Homo sapiens: one gene and its partners. The protein of the gene in region 3 purifies or fractionates together with the protein of the main gene of each other region. This does not show direct contact. Each region holds a gene or a part of one and is shown on either strand. Other genes may lie near its edges.

Evidence for each region. The genes of interacting proteins can lie anywhere in the genome.
Region 1: the proteins of MED9 (region 3) and CDK8 purify together in Homo sapiens (affinity purification with mass spectrometry; 12 studies listed by BioGRID and IntAct, with this or other methods). This does not show direct contact.
Region 2: the proteins of MED9 (region 3) and MED13L purify together in Homo sapiens (affinity purification with mass spectrometry; 5 studies listed by BioGRID and IntAct, with this or other methods). This does not show direct contact.

Annotation. Positions count from the first base shown.
Region 1 is NC_000013.11:26,390,109-26,397,129, forward strand, and holds part of CDK8 (cyclin-dependent kinase 8), read left to right. Parts: intron 1-3,258; coding exon 3,259-3,402; intron 3,403-6,176; coding exon 6,177-6,246; intron 6,247-7,021.
Region 2 is NC_000012.12:116,274,693-116,282,084, forward strand, and holds the start of MED13L (mediator of RNA polymerase II transcription subunit 13-like), read right to left. Parts: upstream 3,002-7,392; 5' UTR 2,440-3,001; coding exon 2,368-2,439; intron 2,001-2,367; exon of another isoform or gene 1,780-2,000; coding exon of another isoform or gene 1,738-1,779; intron 1-1,737. UniProt on the Homo sapiens protein: Component of the Mediator complex, a coactivator involved in the regulated transcription of nearly all RNA polymerase II-dependent genes.
Region 3 is NC_000017.11:17,472,107-17,480,000, forward strand, and holds the start of MED9 (mediator of RNA polymerase II transcription subunit 9), read left to right. Parts: upstream 1-4,893; 5' UTR 4,894-4,935; coding exon 4,936-5,159; intron 5,160-7,894.

The sequences.
Region 1 (7,021 bases), on a different chromosome or scaffold from region 3:
CTAAAGATTAAAATACTCAACAAATTTCTCACACCACCATTAAAGCTGCTTACCAAGAACTTCCCCAGCATTTTGACTTCCTTGTTTGATAGCTGAATTGTGAGCAGGTGATAGAAGAGCCTTTCTAGTTGAACATACAGATAATTTGCTGAATACATTCCATTTAATGAAGGGGTTACATCTGTTACGAAGCTACTAAGAAGGAGCAAAAGCATAGGGAAAAAAATCTGATCAGAACGCATCAAACTCACATATGCCCCATCTACTACAAACAGATTGTAGTGCTGTGCTGGTTTATTCCGTTGTGCAGAACTGCAAGCTGAGTCACTAAACCAAAGAGAGGAAATAATAGGTTAGTAAACATTGTAATCCCAGGAACTAAGTTTAATTCACTTTTGAGTGTTTTGTTTTTTATTTTTGTTTGTCTGATTTACTTTGGGGAAAAGGCTAAAAAAAGGGATATCAATCTCTAATTCAGTGCCACTAAAGTAGTCCTAAAAGTCTTACTGAAGTATGGACTTTTAAGCTCAGGTGTTTGTCCTCAAATAGCTGCATGGCCACTAAATGTGAGGCATTCTGCTAAGTGGGAAATACACATTAAAATAGAGAAAATGAGAATTTCTTCCCTTTTATCAAAACAAGAAGCTTGCTATTACTACACTTGTTGATTCAAATATTATTGAGCAAAGTCTTTTCTCCTCCCAAATTTGGTCTGTATAGCATGCCAATTCCTACTATTTCCTTTGCCTGGTTAGCTCAGTAGCTACCTATAAGCATCACACATTTTGAGAAGTAGATGAAACTTATATGTTTTTAATTTGGAAAGCCATTTTATAAGGAGTTTGGCAGGCAGGTGAACACTAAAGAGACTTTCCATGAATTGGGCACAATCTAAAAAAAAAAAAAAAACAAGGTAGGAAAAAGAAACTTATTTACAATAATTAGAAATTTATCTGCAATAATAGCCTGATCAGCTGACTCAGAGTTAATGATTAATGTATGGGTCAGGATTTTGAAGAAAGGAAGAATGGTAAAATTGACAAAGGTGAGAGAGAATAGCAGTTATAAAGACAGAAGAGTTACTAGATGGGAGGGAGTTAAGCAAGGTTCAATAAGTTATTTTTCCTGTTGACTGGACTTTTTCTTTAAAAAGCAGTGTAGCTTTGCATACATTTTTTCTGTGAAATAGGGTCTTGCTATGTTGTCAAGGCTGGATTCAAACTCCTGGGCTCAAGCGATCCTCCCGCCTCAGCCTCCTGAGTAGCTGGGACTACAGGCATATGCCAGTATGCTCAGCTAAGAGCAGTGTAGCTTTAATTATAGCTAAACTACTTACCTTTCATCTTCCTTTACATATTTTATTTTCTTCTTTGGAATTTTTAATAACTAACCAGATGAATTGTTACAGTGTTTATTGGGTGTGCTGTAAGTAGAATTTTAAACATGCAAAGCCATCCATCATCCCTTTTTGTGATCCTACTTAGCTGCCTATGTGGCCATTGATTATCAAAGGTTAGATTTATAGGGTATACCCATATAAAAAGAATAATCACAAAATAATTAATTTTCCCATATACCTTTCGATGACAAAAACAAAATAGGTTGGCCTATGTTTCTTGATGAGACTTTTCCATATGATGGTATTGGCTAGGCTTGGTTCTCTGATATGTAAATACGATGTCATTTTTTAAAATCACTTGCTGCAGTCAGTGTGAATCTTTAAGTAAATAGGTGATTAACTTGTTACTTTGAAATGTAAATATGTGAAATTTTAGATTAAATTAAATATCTCTATTCCAGTTTTGGAATTTAGGAATTCTCATTTTAGGTTTTTTCTTATTTCCTGTTTAAGTGACAGTTATTAACATATCTGAACAATCAGCTTTGATAAAATAGTAATTTTGATTTGTTCCCTTTGGTTATTTATATTTGTCACAGGTATTGGTTAAGTCAGTCAAAAACCATGTGTTGAGGGTCTGCTATATGCACACCATTGTACTTAGTTTAGGATTTGTTAAGAGTAGAAATGAAATATTTTCAGCTTTAAATTCTAAATTGGCAAATAGATCTTACCTCTACTAATAGTTCTTTTGAGTACAAATTTAATTTGAATGAAAGTAAATCTGTATCTTGTGAATGAAAGGAATTTACTTTGTTGTGTACAGAGAAACCCATTTGCCTGGCTTTTGTCAATAATTCATTTGAATTTATAACCCTTTTTTTTTTTTTTTTTTTTTGAGACGGAGTCTTGCTCTGTCGCCCAGGCAAGAGTGCAGTGGCGCGATCTCGGCTCACTGCAGCCTCTGCCTCCCGGGTTCAAGCAATTCTCCTGCCTCAGCCTCCTGAGTAGCTGGGACTATAGCCGCGTGCCGCCATGCCCAGCTAATTTTTGTATTTTTAGTAGAGACAGGATTTAACTATGTTGGCCAGGCTGGTCTTGATTTCCTGACCTCGTGATCCGTCCTCCTCAGCCTCCCAACATGCTGGGATTATAGGCATGAGCCACCACACCCGGCCGAATTTATAATCCATGTTAACAGTAATATTTTGCTTTTGCTTCCTGTCCTTTGCATTAAATACTTAAATTTGCAAAATCTGATACTGCTTATGGCATCAAGAACCACTTTGGAAAAAAAACTTTGTTAAAGTAGAAATGCTGTTAATTCTTAGGCGTTTTGAGGTCGGACATTGTCTCTTGGTGGAATACCACCTTACTGATTAGTGCTAACATGAGAGGGTAATTATTAGACCTTGCAAATTAGCAAGTAAATAAAATAAAAAATATTTTATCACAAAAATTTACACTGATTATGTTAGGCGAGTGCCCAATTTCAAATACTGTTTGGGTTTTCCGTTTGTTTTTGTTTAGTTTTCTTTGGTTGTAGTTCCCATGCTCCATATGCAGCTTTACTGTAGTTCACAGAAAAGGTATCACCTGGACATTGAAAACTCACCAAAATCCAGCCAGTACATTTAATTGGGCTTAGAGTGAAACCATTTGGGTGGTATGGAGGTATACAGAATGAAAAATCGGGGTGGAGGGCATGGGAATATATACTTATAATAATGTTTCATGGTATTTAGTAATTATAATTGCTTAGGAATTAATATGAGTTATTAGGGAAAGAAAGAAAAAAACACTCCCCAAGAAAATAAAATTGCATTTTCTTTTGGAAAGAACCACTTTATTTTGCACCTTTCTTTTTCTTTTTTCCTTGCCTATTTTTCTTTCTTTTTTTTTTTCTTTTTGTTTTAAAGATATTTGGGCTATAGGGTGTATATTTGCAGAACTACTAACGTCAGAACCAATATTTCACTGTCGACAAGAGGACATCAAAACTAGTAATCCTTATCACCATGACCAGCTGGACAGAATATTCAATGTAATGGGATTTCCTGCAGGTACACATTATTCGTTTTTGTTTTTGTTTTTAAATCACTGTTGTTTGAACTTAGATGTCTTCGTTGGAGAGGTATATATTTTTAGCTGATGGAAGCTACTTTTACTTGAGTCTTTGTTTTTTGACTTGCATTTATCAAAGATCCGTAGAAACAGCAAAATTTGTAGAGTTTACATATTGGCATGGAAATATTTATGGGTTTCCTGAATTTCAGGACTGTATTTTTGTTTCATCTTGTTTTACTTTTTTGTTTTGTTATTTGGTATTTGAAATGATAAAATATGTTCAATATCTGTATTAAAAAGGTACCTTTAGCTCTTACCAGTAGAAACTATAAATGAATTCAGTAGTAGGAATTTTTTTCTGGCAGCACATATAATACTGCCACTATTTGGCATTCAAATATAAATTTTGAACCTTATTTCTATTTAGGGCACTATACAGAATCACATTATATTGAATAATAGCATTTAAGTCTTCTCTTAGAACAGTCACAATGTGGGTGAGAGTCATAGTACCCTATGGTGAGTTAGCCTGCTGTTTTGCAACAGAGAGATGGTTTACATGTATCCTATCCCTGGTATTAGATCTCTCCAACTGTATCTCAATCCCTAGTTATATTACAGAACGGTAATCACCAAAAACTGCTCAGAGGTCCAGAATAATGAGAATTTGTTTAAAACACCTAAATTTTGGCTAGTCAAGTACTTAGTAGAAAGTGTTTCTTATTAGGAATATTTCTCAGGTCACTATAAACTCAAGACTAATAGAGATAATACCTGGGACTTTTAATTCTACATTCCCTTGTAAGGGTGTTAATTATCAGTAAATGCAGAATAACTACACAGATACTGCCTTTCTCCAAAATTGGTCACCAGTGTGGAGAAGACTTCTGTTGTGATGGGAATTTTATTTATTCAGTAAATATTTATTGAGTACCTGCCATGTGCCAGGCACTGTCTTAAGTAAAAAGTTATTGATGATGTAACAGACATGATTTTTGCCCCCTTGGAGTTTGCATTGTACTGCTATATGTAGAATGTTTAAAAAGTAGGTATGGTTTTGAGTAGAGACAGAAGAATTCTGTTTTCTTCCTGCTTCTGAATGTGTCCACCATTTCTGAGCCCACGGGAAAGGCATAGCTTCTGTGAGGGAGTAGATGTGGTGAAGATGTCTATCAGTGACTCTTAATATGTGGTTCAGAGGTTAGGGTGGTTTATAAGGAAGCTTGGAAAGCAGGCAGCAGAGGTTAGATTTGATAGCTAAAGAATGAGAATCCATCAGTTCTTGAGTACTAGAGACATGCTTTATGTTGCATTTTAGAAAGATTTAGTAAGATGGTGGTAGGTAAAAATCTGTTAAAAAGAGCTAACTGAAATCAGAAACCAGCTGTAGCAGTGCTGCAGACAGAAAGTAGAGTGAAGATAAGGATGGAGAAAAAAGGGCAGATGGAAATGTTTTATAGGAAGTGTATAAGCAAGGGAAAACTAAAGATTATCTTAAAATTTCTAGCATGAGAAATTGATAAAACACAGAAATTGGAGCAAGGAAAATAGTTAAGGAGAAAATTCCATTTAGGAGTGTAGTGTATGTTTAGTTTACAATATGTGATGTCTTTGGAGGATAGTTACCAAATATTTTTACAAGTAAGTTCAAAGAAAAGCAAGCCTCTAAAGGCCATTTAAAAGCTAAAGGTTTTGCGAGGCCGCGGTGGGCGGATCACCTGAGGTTGGGAGTTTGAGACCAGCCTGAACAACATGGAGAAACCCCGTCTCTACCAAAAATACAAAATTAGCTGGGCATGGTGGCTACATGCCTGTAATGTATTACAGGCATGGGATTACATGCCTGTAATCCCAGCTACTCTGGAGGCTGAGGCAGGGGAATCACTTGAACCTGGGAGGCAGAGGTTGGGGTGAGCCGAGATCGCACCATTGCACTCCGGCCTGGGCTGTTAACAAGAGCGAAACTCCGTCTCAAAAAAAAAAAAAAAAGAGCTAAAGGTGCTGTTAAGCTGCCTGTGACAGTCCTTTGCACCTAGTAGACTCTCAGGAAAACCCATTGGCAGATATTGGAGAGAACACATTATGTAGCATGTATTGTTTGAGCAACTTGGATGCCAGCAAAAGTAGCTGAAACGTTTTGTACTTAACGTATTTAGGAGCTGGGGTTGTTTTGGGTAATGTTAACCAGACTAGCCAAGGTACCAGCCCACTTATTAATATACTAATTATATCCTACCCTATTGTGCAAATAGTTATTACCCCTTCTTCCATTGATTGCTTATGTAAAGAAATATATTTAACAAGGTGAAAGGAGGGCTGTATCATAAAAAGAAGTATAGTTTAAAGCCACTGAGGGGAAGATCTTAGATTTCTCATTGAAGAAATTGATTGCTGACTTAACCAAGAAATTTGGTAGAAAAGGGGAAATAAGCAGTTTTACTAATAGAAAGAGGACATTTAATAAGATAAATAGAAATATGTATAACTTATTCTTCTCTAGTGACAGAAATTGAGGCAGCTTATAGTAAAACATACAGAAAGTTTGCAGTTTAAAATTTAAAATATAAACAGATATATAAAGTTATATAAGGGATAAGGAATTATGTTTACACTTCAAGATATTTACTGTTGCTGAACATTTATTTGAAGACAGCTTTTTTGTGTGGAGGTTGAACGGATAGGAAATGTAATGAACGTGGTAATAACCTTTTTAAAAATTCTCAAGAATAGGAACTTAGGCAACATAAAAATTTATCAATGTATTTCACAGATAAAGATTGGGAAGATATAAAAAAGATGCCTGAACATTCAACATTAATGAAAGATTTCAGAAGAAATACGTAAGTTGGAAAAAAAGAGACTCCTTGTTGATTTTTGCTTTACCAGAATACTCAGTGTAAGACTGAATATTCAACATAATAAAATACTCAATATAAGATTACTCTAATAAATAATTTTACTTATTTACTCTAATAAATATTTTTCATGATGACAGTCTTTATTTCTTAAGATGCTTAAATGATTATATACAAAAGTGACTAATATTAGCAGCTGATTTGGATATAAAACAAATTCATGTCTTTCCATATTGACTACTTTTTGGAAGCTAGACATTAGTGAGAAGTATCACAGCTGAATAAATAAGAATCTAAATAAATAAACTTTGGTAATAGCCACTTGCTCACCAATCTAGGTTACAGTAATTTTAAGCAGGTTTTAACAGAGAAGAATGGATATTTCACCTGTTTACAATGCAAAGCCAGGGATTGGGAGAGTTTAGTTTGTATACCTATGACAAAAGTATTTTACACTTATTGGTAAGGCTGAATTAAACTTTTGACCCAGATGTTATTTAAAATAATTGTTAAAATATAATTCATGTGAAAAAAAAAGCTGTTTAGTGTCTGTTATTCATGAAATTGTCTTACATTTAATCATCGGTATCCTTTCAAAAGTGACCATTGTGGATATTGAATGAAATAGAAAACTGATTTAATTCTACTCATTTTATGCTCATAGTGTTTTCAATATATATTTTATATCGGTTATGATCAAAATAATTCTCATCAGAAGGACTTTAGCCAATGTACAATTAACCTCAAGTCTAATATAGCT
Region 2 (7,392 bases), on a different chromosome or scaffold from region 3:
CTTATCCACACTCCACGTACAAGAGAATGAAGACATTCTACGTTCCTTTAAAAAAAAAAATCAACTAAGCATTTCTATGGTTCTCTAGTTCAAAGTTGCTACTTAAAAAATAATTCTTTTTAAAAAAGCATATTCAAAAATCAATCCCTTGGTTTAAAGAGGTTTAGGGGAGAAATATCTCAAACACAAACCTTTAGTCATTCAAAATCAAAGTACAGAATCCTCTCCTACAAAATTGCTTCTCCAAAAGAATCTCAAGCATTTTATCTCTGTAACGTTATCATCCTTACTTAAGCTTTAAAAAAAAAAAAAAAAGATAAAAGAAATGATATACCCTAAAGACTGGCTATACATATACTTTCATTTGTCTACAGAATCCGTATATACACAGCCATTACCAGTCAGCATAATATATGATAATTTGGGAGATCGCTCTACTTGGTTATTTTAATTACCTGTAAGTGTCAATGTGGTCACCAGTAACCACACAAAAACCATTTTAAATACCCCTTGATCAATATGTTTGCTAATCTATGGAAGTCCCTGAACCTGACTGATACTAAATGATAAGACTGAGGAGGGAAAAAGTTGAGGCAAAAGGGGGTTTTACTCCCACATACCAAAAAATCAAGGGAAAATTATCACAATACTAAGAGAAAGAATTCCAACTTATAAATGAATTTTAAGATTAAATATCTGGATTAAAATATTTCATTTAAAAAAATTTACCTGATTTTACTAGAGTGGGAGCAATGATACTATGTCTTTGTAGGTAAAAATCACGTGTTGATTTTTTGGTCTGCATTGTAACACATTTAATAAAGTAACACTTTCATTTGAAAAGTTGGCGAGAATTTGCATTTCTCCATTAGTCTCATAGCAAAAAGGCATCTATGCCACCCATAATTAAATGTAACTAATTACAATTTGAACACTAAATTATTTATCCAGTGTAAACAAGGATTAAGAGGGAAATAATGCTTCTATCTACAGCGGGGGTTACAGAAAATAATTTCCAAAATGCATGCTCTCCAAAAGGGACTCACCTCCCCCCCAAAAAAAACAGGGTACACAACTTAAAACAAGTTGGGTGTTTTTAAGGCTAAATTAAATAAACCGTTCAGCCAATTTTCCAATTATATTCTACGCTTGAAACGTAATTGCCTTACATCTGTTTACAAATCTTTGCTCAATATTTAAACAAATTCGTACTCTCCTGGGCACATAGCTATACATACAGTAACTCATGCACAAAGCACATATTTAAAGACCACGCACTGCAATTATTAGCCTAAACGCCAGGTTTAACAACGTGAATGTTTTCAGAGGTAGGTAATACGACCCAATAAAAAGCAAAGATGGCATTTACCACCAAATGTCACTGACACCGCCAGGAAAAGAGTTGCTGGAGCCCTATACATTTTTAATTTCGATGAATCTAGACACCGTCGGCGGGTGCCAGGCTTCCACGAGAACAATTGACACCCTAACTGCTTCAAGATTAAGGCAGGCGATTCAAATCCGAAGGAAAAGTTGTCAATTATCAGAAAGAGAGAGCGCGAGAGAGGCGAAGGCAGATAAAAGCGATGTTATCAAACCGACCAGCTTGTTGCTTTTGTGTGTGTGTGTGTGTGTGTGTGTGTGTGTGTGTGTGTGTGTGCGGATTCGTTGTTAGGATAGAGAAAAACAGTTTTTAAAAGACACAGGAGGAGAGAAAGAAGAAAAAGCTTTCTCCACCTTCCGTCGGCTCGGTGCAATGGCTTTACGGCTCTCCAGCATAGTAAGCCCCGAGAGGCAGGCGGCTGTCGATGTTTACAATCGCGGGAGCTTCGGGTGCAAGAGTCCTTTCCTGACACAATCGCATTCAATCAACTATTTTAGGGCGAAATTGCAGGTGTCATTATGGAATTTAAAAAAATTCAAAAGGCAGGCGGGCGGGCAGGCAGCTGATCCAACAACGGGGGAAGAGGTTGCCGATCGGAGGCGCGGCAGCACAAGGCAAAGCCTTCCACATTTACGGGGGGAAAAAAAGGGGGGAAAGGGGAGGAGAAGGGGAGTGCGATTGCAACAGAGGGTGGGCGTTCGAAGTGCGACCCAGAATCCGCAGCTCCGAGACTTCCACATGCAAATTCCACGCCGAGCGCCGCGCTCACAAATGATTTTTAAAGAGCCAAATAAACACTGGATGGGATCCAAGGCGAGAGAGAGACGATCCAAAAGGGGGAGAATCGGCGAGAGGCGAACGGCGGGGAGACGCGAGGGAGGGGCGAAGTCCCGGCGGCGGGAGGAGAAAGTTGGTCGGCGGCGGAGGTCGGGGACCCCCCCCCTTCCCCGGCACAGCCCCCTCCCCGCAGCCCGGCTACTCACCAGCGAAAAGAGGTTGGAGTGACAATCCTCCAGGCTCGCCCCGTTCGCCACCCAGTTCGCTGCCGCAGTCATGATCCTCCGCGAGCCCGGCCGCCAGAGCGGGGCATGTCGGAGCGAGGCGTCCGAGGCGAGGCCGGGCCGGGCGGCGGCGCCTCGCCGGGGAGCGCGGGGCGGCCGGGCCGCCGCCGCCGCCGGGGGAGGGCGCGAGGGCCGGCGGGCAGGCGGGAGGCGCCGCGGCGACGCCGCGCCGGGGGCAGCGGGCCCGGGCTGGCGGGGGGGGCGCGCGCCCCGGGCCGGCGCTGCGGGCCGGCCACCGCCTCCGCCTTCCCTGCTCCTCAGCCGCCGCCGCCGCCGCTGCTGCCGCTGCCGCCGCCTTGTTTATCTCCAGCCACCGACTCCCCCTCGGCCCCCGCCGGCGCGCGAGGGGAGGCGAGCCCCGGAGCCGCCGCCGCCGCCTCGGAGCCGCCGCCGCCGCGGAGCGCGAACTCGCGAAGGGGGGGGTGCGGACGAAGCCAGCGGGCGACCCCGGCAGCCGAGCGACGTCCCCTCCTTCCTCTTCCTCCCCCACCCCCCCCTCCTCCCCAGTCAGCCTCGCTTCTCCTCCCTCCCCGGGCTCGCTTGCTCTGACAGCAATGGCGGCCGCCGACCGCGGCTCGGCCCGCCATTGGCTGGCGCTTGGTCACGTGACGGGCGCCGGCCGCGCGGGGGGAGCGAGGGGCGGGCGGGGGAGGGGTCCGGAGTGGCGGCGGCGGCGGCGGCTCGCGGGAGGCGCTGCTGAGCTGAGCGCGGCCGGGTCCTCCGGCCGGGAAGAGGGAGGGAGGGAGGCAGAGAGGGAGAGAAAGAAGTGCGGGCGGCCGGGCTCCCCGGCGGGCGGCGGACTGCCGGCCCGTGGCTGCCGTGGGCTGCCCCTCGTGGCCGCCCCGCCCCCTCGCGGTGCACTGATCGTGGCGGGGCGGGACCGTGGGTCCCGGGCGCGCCCGTGGTGGCCGCGGAGGAGGGCGCGGGACCCCCGGCCTGTGCCCTCGCAGCCCAGGCCGGCTGGCGTGGCGCGGCGGCCGCGATGTGGGCCAGGCAGCGGGTCCGAGTGCCCTGGGGAATGTGTCCTCAGAGGCTCGCGCCGCCGTCCGCCTTTTGCAGAGGAGAAAACTAAAGCACAAAGGGATTAAATCACTTGCCCGAGGTCGCACACTTGGGAAGAGGAGTCCAGATTCGAACCCGCGCACAGTGAAGCCAAGCTCTTGGACAAGGTTTCACAGGCTTCGCCCAGGGATATTCACGGCTGCCATAGACGGAGCGCTTACTGTGTTCCAGACACTGTGCGTTTAATACAGAAATGTTTATTGAGCCCTTACTCCTAGTTACTGTGTGCACTCATTCATTCATTCATTCATTCATTACATAAATGTTTCCTGAGCTCCTGCTGTGTGCCAGAATCTGTTATAACTTCCAGGCACTGTGCTAAGGCCGTGTTGGGAGCAGACCCTTCTTCCTGGCGTCATTCATTGGATAACCAACATTTCCTGAGTGTATATGGCCTGGGAGTCCGGAGGAGTGCTGCTATGAAGAGAAGCTCTCCCAGTCCTCAAGAAATGGATCCCCGAAAAGGGGGAGGAGAAAACAATGTCTTCACTAATACGCCTCCAAACATGGAACAATCAGCTGTTTCAGGTAGATTAAGCTAAAAGAGGAAGAGTGGATGGCTGGCACAGTGGCTCACGCCGGTAATCCTAGCCGAGGTTTAAGACCAGCCTGAGCAATGTAGCAAGAACCCCCGTCATGACAAAAAAAATAAAATACAAAAATACAAAAATTAGCCAGGCGTAGTGTGGCATGTGCCTGTAGCCCTAGCTACTCGAAAGGCTGAGGTGGGAGGATAACTTGAGCCCTGGAGGCAGAGGCTGCAGTGAGCCCAGTGAGCCGAGGTCGCATCACCGTACTCCAGCCTGAGTGACAGAGAGAGGCCCTGTCTCAAAAAAAAAAAAAAAAAAAAAAAGGAAGAGTAGAAAGCAGGGAAGAGATGAGAGTGTATAATAAGAGAAGTCTTAAGACACGTGAACTGAGTTTTGGAACTACCACAAATACTGCTAAAGCAAAACTCATGAGCAACATGTTATAATGTGTATTATCATGCAACATATTGTTACAATGAATGTCGTTACCTACATTATTTCACATAATCCGCAGAACAACCACCTAAAGTAGATACTGTTATTATTCTTAGGCTGTAATTAGGTAAAACTCAGAGGTGTGCAGTGACATCTCCAATCTCTCAGTTAGTACATGGCTCAAACTCAGGTCCTTCTGACTCCAGAGCCCGAGCATGAATTCAGGAGGCTCCTTAGAAAGATGCCTCTGGCTGGCTTTGCCATCCCTCTAATTGCATTATTTTGACCAACATAGTTTAACTCTTTGAGCCTCATTTCCTAATCTCAAAAATTGATCCTGATTGCTGACCCAATGACCTCAGGCCAATATTGAGAATTTCTATTAAGATACTGTTGATGAGCGGATGCAGTCGCTCACGCTTGTAATCCGTGCACTTTGGAAGGCCAAGGCGGGCAGACCAACTGAGGTGAGGAGCTCGAGACCAGCCTGGCCAACATGATGAAACCCTGTCTCTACTAAAAATACTAAAAATACAAAAATTAGCCGGGTGTGGTGGCGTGTGCCCGTAGTCCCAGCTGCTTGGGAGGCTGAGACAAGAGAATCGTTTGAACCCAGGAAGCAGAGGTTGCAGTGAGCAGAGATTGCACCACTACACACCAGCCTGGGCGACAGAGTGAGACTCCATCAAAAAAATAAATAAATAAATAAATAAAGATACTGTTGGTAAAAGTAAAAAAAAAAAAAAAAAACCACTCTGTCAACATACACGGTGTTACTTAGGCCTGAGCAATTCGAGGGTATAATGCCCATCATATCCAGATTCCATATATTTACATCAGAGGTGAAGGTAGTTCTATCCTACTCACCTGGTGACCAAATTGTCATTCTTCAGCATGTTTAGGTTTAAGTAGAAATAGTAATAGGCCAGGTGCAGTGGCTCACACCTGTAGTCCCAGCACTTTGGGAGGCCAAGGCCAGCGGATCGCTTGAGTCCAGGAATTCAAGACCAGCCAAGGCAACATGACAAACTCCCATCTCTACAAAAGAATTAGCCAGGTGCTCACCTGTAGTCCCAGCTACCTGGGAGGCTGAGATAGGAGGATCGATTGAGCCTAGGAATTTGAGGCTACAGTGAGCCATGATCTTGCCACTGCACTTCAGCCTGTGTGACGGAGACCCTCTCTCGAAAAATCAAATACTAATGATAAATCTTTCAGAGCAAAACCTAATAGAAACATGAATAAAGGACTTGGACAGTTTACAGAATAGAGAAGACCAGCTTTTAAATGCAGTCATGTACTACATTTTGGACAACAGTGGACCACATATATGACAGTGGTCCCATAAGATTATAATACCATATTTGTACTGTACTTTTTCTAAGCTTAGATGTGTTTAGATACACAAACACCATTATATTACAACTGCCTACAGTATTCAGTACAGTAACATGCCATACAGGTTTGTAGCCTAGGAGCAATAGGCTATACCATTTAGCCTAGCTGTGCAGTAGACTATCTCATCTAGGTTTGTGCAAGTGCACTTTATGATGTTTGCACAATGAGGAAATCACCAGTGTTACATTTCTCAGAACACATCCCCATCATTGACACTTGATTGTATATAAAATGTTACTCAACCTCACTCGTTGTTATTGGCTGAATGTTTGTGTCCTCCCCAAACTTCATATGTTGAAACTCTACTCACCACTGTAAAGATATTTGAAGGTGGAGCCCTTGGGAGGTAATTAGCATAAGAGTGGAGCCCTCGTGATGGAATTAGTGCCGTTGTAGGAAGAGACACAAGGGAGTTTGCTTCTCTCTCTCTACTGTGTGAAGACATAACCAAGAAGAGGGTCCTTACCAGGAACTGAAATGGCCAGCACCTGATCGTGGACTTCCCAGCCTCCAGAACTGTGTGAAGTAAATGTCTGTTGTTTAAAGCCACCCAGTCTATGGTAATTTGTTATAGCAGCTGGAGCCGACTAACACACTCATCATAAGAAAAAGCAGAAATTAAAGCCACAAGAAGTATTGACAGTATTTTAAAAGCTTAGACAAATGTAGAGAGAAGTAGGACTCTCATACACTGCTGGTGGGAATATAAATTAACACCATAGCTTTGGATGTCCGTTCAACTAGCATCAAAATCTATAATGCACACAGCCTTTGACCCAGCTGTTCGACTTCTAGAAGTTTATCCAACAGAGATACTTGTACGATTGTATAAAGACATGCAGTGCAGGGATATGAACTATAGCATTGTTTGTAGGGTACAAACTAGAAACATGTCCATCATTTGGGGAATAGTTAACAATATAATTTACTCCCATGCAGCCATTAAAAATAATGAGTTAGTGCTATTTGCACTAATATGGAATAATCTCAAAAATAGATTATTTATTGAGATACCTCAGGAAGGGTAACAAGAAACTAGTAGTAACATTAGTTGCCTCTAAGGAGGGGAACTAGGGGGACTGGGAGTTGGAGTGGGATTACTTTTTACCATACTGTTTGCATTTTCTTTTTTCCTTTGTTTAAAATAACCAAATGTTGGCCGGGTGCTGTGGCTCATGCCTGCAATCCTAGAATCCTAGAACTGGGAGGACAAGGTGAGTGGATAATTTGAGGTCAGGAGTTCAAGACCAGCCTGGCCAACATGGTGAAACCCCATCTCTACTAAAAATACAGAAATTAGGCGGGCATGGTGATGCGTGCCTATAATCCCAGCTGTTTGGAAAGCCGAGGCAGGAGATTGCTTGAACCTGGGAGGTGGAGGTTGCAGTGAGCCAAGCTCCTGCCACTGCACTCTAAACTCTAACCTGGGCGATGGAGTGAGCCTCTGTCTCAAAAATAAATAAATAAAATAAAATAACCAAATGTATACATATCCATTCAGTGCAGTAAGTTATAAACAACA
Region 3 (7,894 bases):
AAATAATTTGGATGAAAATTATGTAGTAAAGAGATTGGAAAAAATACGGCTTCAGAACAATAATGAACCATTTTTGATAAAAGCTAGTTCCTGGAATGGATTGCCTCTCATTTGTATTATATCAAAAGCTGTTTGGTAATTTAAGGGCAGCTGGTGAAGATCTGGTGAAAGATCACAAACAGAAGGACTAAAAGAAAGGACTCAAGGAGAACATTCTCTCAGTCTGAAAAAAATACAGTCGGATTTGTATGCTGAAATGCCCCCAAAACAAATGATTCTGAGAAATGAAACCACTAACAGAAATGAGTTGAGAAAATGAACGTAATGGAGTATCTCAGAGTTAGGAGAGGACGGCTGAAAAGAATAAAAAGGAGATTCAAGTGGAGCTCAGAGAGAGAAGAAAGACAATCCGCAGGGTGGACCCAAGCAAAGGGCTTTTGTCTGAGGTTTATGCAATGAATCGTGGCTTCAGTGAGCTGATTCCTGGTATACATTGCACTACATTTGGCCAGAACAATGATTGCTGCCTTTTTTTTTTTTAACTCACAAAAATCAAAGTATTGTGTAGCTTTTTCCACCTGCCTGAGGCTCCAGGTTATGAAAAGAAAAGGATGAATCATAAGTAAGAATATAGCTTTGATGAAAAAGCCCTCTATCATATGATGACATGATCAGTTTAACAAGACCCATGGTGTCTGTCTGACGGAGACATGACTATTTTTGGACTTTACGTAGCAGAATTCTTGTATCACAAGAATATTCATAGATATGTGTGATACGGGTCCACTTTGAGCATCTGAAAGTTCAGTTCTGGGTGCAGTCTGGTTTTTGTATGTGTTCTTGTAGTAGCAGTTTATTGCATAAGGAATAATTACTCCAGGGTTTTTGAAAAAAAAAAAAATTAAGTAGCAGTAGTAGCTAACACATAGATGCTTACTATGTGCCAGGCACTGTTTGAAGCTCTTGACATGCATTCCCTCTTGTAACTGTTTCAGCAGCCCCATTAGGTAGGTACTGTATGATTCCATTTTGCAGATGAGGAGACCCAGGCTCAGGGAGGTTAAATAACTTGCCCAGCGTCATAGAGCCAGAGAGGAGCAGAGCATGGAGTCTATGTGCCAAACCCCCTTGCACCCACCCCTCTATTTGGCCGTTGTTCATATTTATCCTATTTACTTCAAGTTATCTCATATACAAGAGATAAAACACCACATAGAAAGTTGCTGTGCCTGTTATATTCCCAGTCCTTGCTTCGTCCCCTGTCCCATCCATGTGAGGTGTATCCCCCAGTTCCTTTTTCAAATACATTTACATAGGTGTCATATTTATGGACAATAGAGAATGTTATTTTTCATGCTTCAACATTTGCATAAGTGGTAATATACTCTATATCCATTGTAGAACTCGCTTTTTCCTCCATTTCCACCATTATGATGTGAGTGTTGTCTATGTTGATATGAATCCATTTCTCTGCACCATCCAGTTCTGTAGTTGCTGGCCACATTTGGATGCTGAGCAGTGATATGTGACTGCTGGAATTGAGATGTACGGTGAGTGTAAAACACCCGGTTTCAAAGACAGTAGGAAAAACAGTAAAATATCCTATTAATAATTTTCATATTGATTACTTGTTGAAATTATAATATTTTGGACATATTGGGTTAAATAAAATGTATCATTAAAATTAGCTTCACCTATGTTTTCTCTCTCTTTTTTTTTTTTTTTTTTTTTGAGACAGAGTCTCGCTGTATCGCCCAGGCTGGAGTGCAGTGGTGTGATCTTGGCTCACTGCAACCTCTGCTTCCCAGCTTCAAGCAATTCTCCTGCCTCAGCCTCCCAAGTAGCTGGGACTACAGGTGTGTGCCACCACGCCCAACTAATTTTTGTATTTTTAGTAGAGATGGGGTTTCACTATGTTGGCTAGGCTAACCTCAAGTGATCCACCCGCCTTGGCATCCCAAAGTGCTGAGATTACAGACATAAGCCATGACACCCGACCTGTTTTCTTATTTTTTAATATGGCTGCTAGAAAACTGAACACCGCCTCTGCGGCTTGCATGTTTGGCTTACATTTTTATCAAAGGGCAGTGATGTGGATCATTCCTCTTAGCTGCTGTCTGTCTGGGTTTTGTTAATTGGTGAAGTAAGAAGTCCTAAATCTAATAGCAAGAAGAATTACTATTTACTGCGCACAGATATTTACTCTAAGTGCTTTACAAGTAATGGCCCATTCAGTCTTGCGAGGTGGCATGGCTGCACGAAGTGAGATTAAGCAATTGCCCAGTCACGAAGCTCCAAGGAGGCTGAGTTGAGGCTGAAGTCAGGCGGCTGCCTCCAAAGCCTGACCTTGTAACCACTAACTGGACAAGGCCCCGTGAGAAACGGCATAAATCCACCTAAGAAAGCAATGACCTTAGAGCTTCCCTTGTGGTGGGGTGAAGTTTCCTTCACCACAATACATTGTCCTTACATATCAATGGAGCATCTGTCTTTCCTGACTTTTAACAGAGCAGGTTATAAACAGACACACATTTGTTGTGGCAATTTCAGCTTTAATGAAACCAGCACAGGCAGTATTTTTCTGACATCCGCTTGCAACATTATGAAGTCAGCTTTACTCTTTGCCACTAATTATATTAACTATTTTTAGGGCAAACTGTCAATGCACCATACTGGTTCATGCTTCCTAGGTTTTCAACCTGTTTTCTTTAGCCATATCTATTTATACCTCAAGTGTTTTTTCTTTTAAGAAGCATCCTCATTTTTCTGACAATGATATAGTTGTGGCTCATAATTAAGTTATAAAACACTCTGGGAGGGCAAAGATGACGTGTGATTGCCATGGGGATATTATTGATGAATATTGGATTGGTTTTTGAATTCTGAATTCAAACCCACTTTAACATTTTGAATCATAAAGTTACAGAACTGGTAGGGATCCGAAGTCTCTTTAGTGTTGGTTAAGATCATAGACTTGGCATCAGCAACTGCGTTGACCCTTAGGCTGGGATCTTAACCATTGTAAGTCTTGGTTTTCTCATCTAGAAAATGGGGATCCTGACATCCATCTTCTAGACCTCTGTCTGTGGATTGAGACAGTGACTGTAACTCTGTTCCCTGTATCTACTTTTACTCCATGGTAGTTGTGGTAATTACTATTATTATTACTATTACTATATCATCTTTCCCCAGATGACTCCAAGGGTATACAGTCTCTTCAAGCACATCTGGCCTTTTTCTCCTCCATGCTCAACCAGAACTCTTGAACTTTCCCTTAGTTGGAGAGGTCAATGGTTAGAAGGAAGAAAACTCCGCAACCCACTCCCTCCCTTTGCTCTCTCTCTGGGGCACCGTGGGCAGCTCTTGCTGCAGAGAGCTGTGCTGAGGCCCTTTACTACAGAACCTGTACAGCGCACCCTCCAACAGCACTTCCATCTATGGTCCTACTCCCCAAGGATCTGCCTCCGCACAGCCCTCCCAATGTGCCTGAAAATATCAGCATTGATCCTTTCCCTGGCCACCTTGCTCTTAAGGCTCCTGTTCATCATGCTATGTGGATGTGGACCTCCTCGCCTCTCTGTACTGCCCATGATGGTGGATTACAGCAGAATGGGCTCACCAGTTGACAGCTTTCCCCACTCATGTCTTCTACTCACTAGCTAAGCTTGGGGTGGGTGTCCCCATTGCCCGGAAAATTACTACACAGCCCTCATATCAAACTTGTTTTGAGAAGCATAACCATAAACCCATCTTTGGCCTATGATCCTAGGGAGTCCTCATGCCAACAAGACCTTTTGGGGTCAGCCACGCATGTGAAGTTAGAATGCAGTTTAGGCTGTGCCATGAATCTGAACTAAATATGATTTTAGGGGTGAGGAAACTGGGACCTAGGGGCTTGGGGAACTGGCCCGAAGGTATGGAGAGTACCTGACCTTGTCGTTCTTCCAGGATATGATATTTACTCCTGGCACCAATCCCCTCTACCTTGTACTGAAAGCAAGGACAGCCTGCCTGCAACCACACATACAGGTGGCCATCCAGCAGGTGCATACTAAATGTGTGTTGAGTTGAATTATTAGACTCTTTCTAAGCAACCTTGCAGCATTGAAGGGACCGCAATCCCTTTGCCTCTGCGTCCTTAGGGCTAAACTCGAGGTCTCGATGTCTTGCACTGTGGGCTGGGCCGGGTTTGGTGCCTCACCCAGCAGGTAAGTGCTGTCTACGCCTCCCACAGGTCCAGTGGCTCCTCTCCAGACTTGGGTGCACTGGGCCAGGCTGCACCTTACTAATCTCAAGGCTTCCTGTGTTTGTGGCTTTGGGGCCCTCTTCATCGTGTGAATAGGAATAAGAAGATTGTTATTTCTGGCCGGGTGCAGTGGCTCACGCCTGTAATCCCAGCACTTTGGGAGGCCGAGACGGGCGGATCACCTGAGGTGGGGAGTTCGAGACCAGCCTGATCAACATGGAGAAACCCCGTCTCTACTAAAAATATAAAATTAGCCGGGCGTGGTGGTGCATGCCTGTAATCCCAGCTACTAGGGAGGCTGAGGCAGGAGAATCGCTTGAACCCGGGAGGCGGAGGTTGCGGTGAGCCGAGATCGCGCCACTGCACTCCAGCCTGGGCAACAAGAGCGAAATTCCGTCTCAAAAAAAAAAAAAAGATTGTTATTTCTGAAATAAACCCCTATTTCTCACTATTTAATAATTTAGCAATCTTGACTCACAATCCAAATCCAGGCACCCCAGACCCACCCACGGCCCGTTGCCTAGCAACAGCCTCCCCACCCCCGCCTCCGCGCCTTTTCCCGCCGACTGCCCAGTGCGCACGCTCAGAGCCTTCCTCCACACCCCGCCCCTGCAGGGCGCGCGGTGGTGACGTGTAGAGTGCGCGACGCTTTTGGCGACCCGACCTCTGGCTAACCTACCCCCGGAGCCATGGCCTCTGCTGGGGTGGCAGCCGGGCGACAGGCGGAGGATGTATTGCCGCCAACGTCCGACCAGCCGCTGCCTGACACCAAGCCGCTGCCGCCTCCTCAGCCGCCGCCGGTCCCTGCGCCTCAACCGCAGCAGTCGCCGGCGCCACGGCCTCAGTCACCTGCCCGCGCGAGGGAGGAAGAGAACTACTCCTTTTTACCTTTGGTTCACAACATCATCAAATGGTAAGAACCTAGGAGAGGACCAGGCCCCATACTCCCTCCAGCTTCTCCTCTCAGCCGTTTCAGAGCTGCAAGAGGCCTTGGCGCTCTGGGGCACGCCCCCGTTTCACAGATGGGGAAACTCAGACCCAGAGCGGGAAGAGGCCTTTCCCAAGACCACAGAGACATTCCATGAGTTAAGCAAACGATTTGAGCCTCGAGAGGTGCGATATCCTTAAGAATGAAGCCAGCTTAGAGACTAAATGCAGACTCTTGTCCAGCGGCTCAAATGTTCATCCCAGCGATCTTGAGCAAATTAAATCTCTTTAAGCCTCAGTTTTCTCACCTTTAATGTTGGTAATACTCACTTTAGTTCCTTAGTTCAGCAAACTCAACAGATAAGCATCATCTTCCCTGTGCCAAGTGCTACGGGATGGACGCAGTAAAAGGGGCCAACTTTTCACCCCCAAAGGTTTAGATAGAAGGAAAAAAAGACATGATTGGGAATAACCCACAATTCAAAAAGATTGAGACGGGAGTGGTGGCGATGGGAAACATTAGACTAAGCAGAAACACAGAAGTTGCCTCAGATGATTAGACCCACTTGTACTGACTTTGTTCTAACAGTACCAAAGGAAATAATTGTTGTCATCCTTTTGGCCAGCCTTCAGGGTAGCCTGAGTTTTCAAAGTGACTCTGTAGAGGAAAAACCAAAAACAAAAACACAAAAGTCTCACTGATCCTTATGTTTGCCTAAATTATTATTTTTTTTGAGAGAGGGTCTCGCTCTGTCACCCAGACTGGAGTACAGTGGCGTGATCTCGGCTCACTGCAGCCTCAACCTCCTGGCCTCAAGCCATCCTCCCACCTCATCCTCCCAAGTAACCGGAACCACAGGCATGAGCCATGGCACCCAGCGAATTTTTGTATTTTTTGTAGAGATGGAGTTTCACCATGTTGCCCAGGCTGTAAATTATTTTCATTATGTTACTTCACTGTATATCCACGTGATACTAGGTGTAAACCCCTAGGCTTGTAACTCTTACTCAACCATTAAAGACCAAAACAAAGTAAATTAAAAGAAAATTACGATTCCAGTAACATTCAGGTGAACATGAATGTGCTCTTCACTGTTTTACTGAAATGGAATTGTTACAACGTGAAGGTCTTGACTGTTAGTGGCCCACCCACTTTTGAGTTTAAGCAAATTAGATTCACTTGCTGTGGGATGACCTGATGCTCTTCTGCCACTTTTCAAATAACTACAAAGGCTTTGTTCTCACATTAGACCCTGGCTTCATTTGGTTTCACTTGGTGTTTAAATACTGTTTATAGGGGCCAGGCATGGTGTCTCATGCCTGTAATCCCAGCACTTTGGGAGGCCAAGGCGGGCGGATCACGAGGTCAGAGTTTGAGACCAGCCTCGTCGACATGGCAAAACCCCATCTCTACTAAAAACACAAAAATTAGCCGGGTGTGGTGGCGGCTGCCTGTAATCCCAGCTACTCAGGAGGCTGAGGCAGGAGAATCACTTGAACCCGGGAGGTGGAGGTTGCAGTGAGCCGAGATCATGCCATTGCACTCCAGCCTGGGCAACAAGAGCAAGACTCTGCCTCAAAAAAAAAAAAAAAGTAATGCTTATAGGATAAGGCAGCCTATTCAGTTTTCGTGAGCCTGTGATAATGATCATAGACAGAAATACATATGGAGCCCCTGTAATCCTAGGGCAGTGCTGGATTATAAAGGGTTTATTCTGATTAACCCTAGTTTACTGGTTTTAAGAAAAATGTGGAAAAATGAAAACACAAAATGTACACATTCACAAGGACAGCTCTTGAACTCCCCAAGAGTATATTCTTGAGCCCTGGTAGAGCAGCTGGGTTGGGTTGGCCTTAAAAGATGTAGTAGTAAGTTATACTAGAGAGAACAGGCTTTGAAGTTAGACAGCCCTGTGTTCAAATCTGTGTACTGACATTTTCTTGCCTTCTAATCTTGATATAAATGCCTAACCTTTCTAGGCCATAATCTTCTTATCTCTAATATGTCCATAGTGGACCTCAAAAGAGAGGTTCAGATTATGTCATAGCTCTATAATGTGCTGACTGGGTGACCTTGGCAAGTAGCTTAGCTTCTCTGAGCCTGTTTTTCTCTTGTGAAATGGGAATGCTTATGTCATAGGATTGTTGGGAGATGTACTCAGGAGTGTACCTGTGAAACATAGTGGGTTGATCACATGTGCTTGTCTCTGTTCCATCTAAAAGGACAGAGAAGGGAGTTTAAAAAAAAAAAAAAGCATAAAACCTTCAGACATGGTGGTTCATGCCTGTAATCCCAACACTTTAGGAGGCTGAGGCGAGCCGGTCGCTTGAGCCTGGGAGTTCAAGACCAGCCTGGGCAACATGGCAAAACCCCGTCCCTACAAAAAATACAAAAAAAATTAGCCAGGCATGGTGGTGTGTGCCTGCAGTCCTGGCTACTTGGGAGGCTGAAGTGGGAGGATCACTTGAACCCAGATCATGCCACTGCATTCTAGCATGGGTGACAGAATGAGACCCTGTGTCAAAAATAAAAAGCATAAAACCAAAAAGAATAGGACAGGAGATGATTGCCACAAAGTGGATGACCAGGGCTAATTCATCTACCAACTCCTAAGCACCTGGTTTGTTAACCATGGCCTATCCCCAGATCTCAGGAACTCTAGTGCAAGGACCCCCTGGAAATAGGGGTGAAGGTGGGTCTAAGAACAGGAAGATTACTTG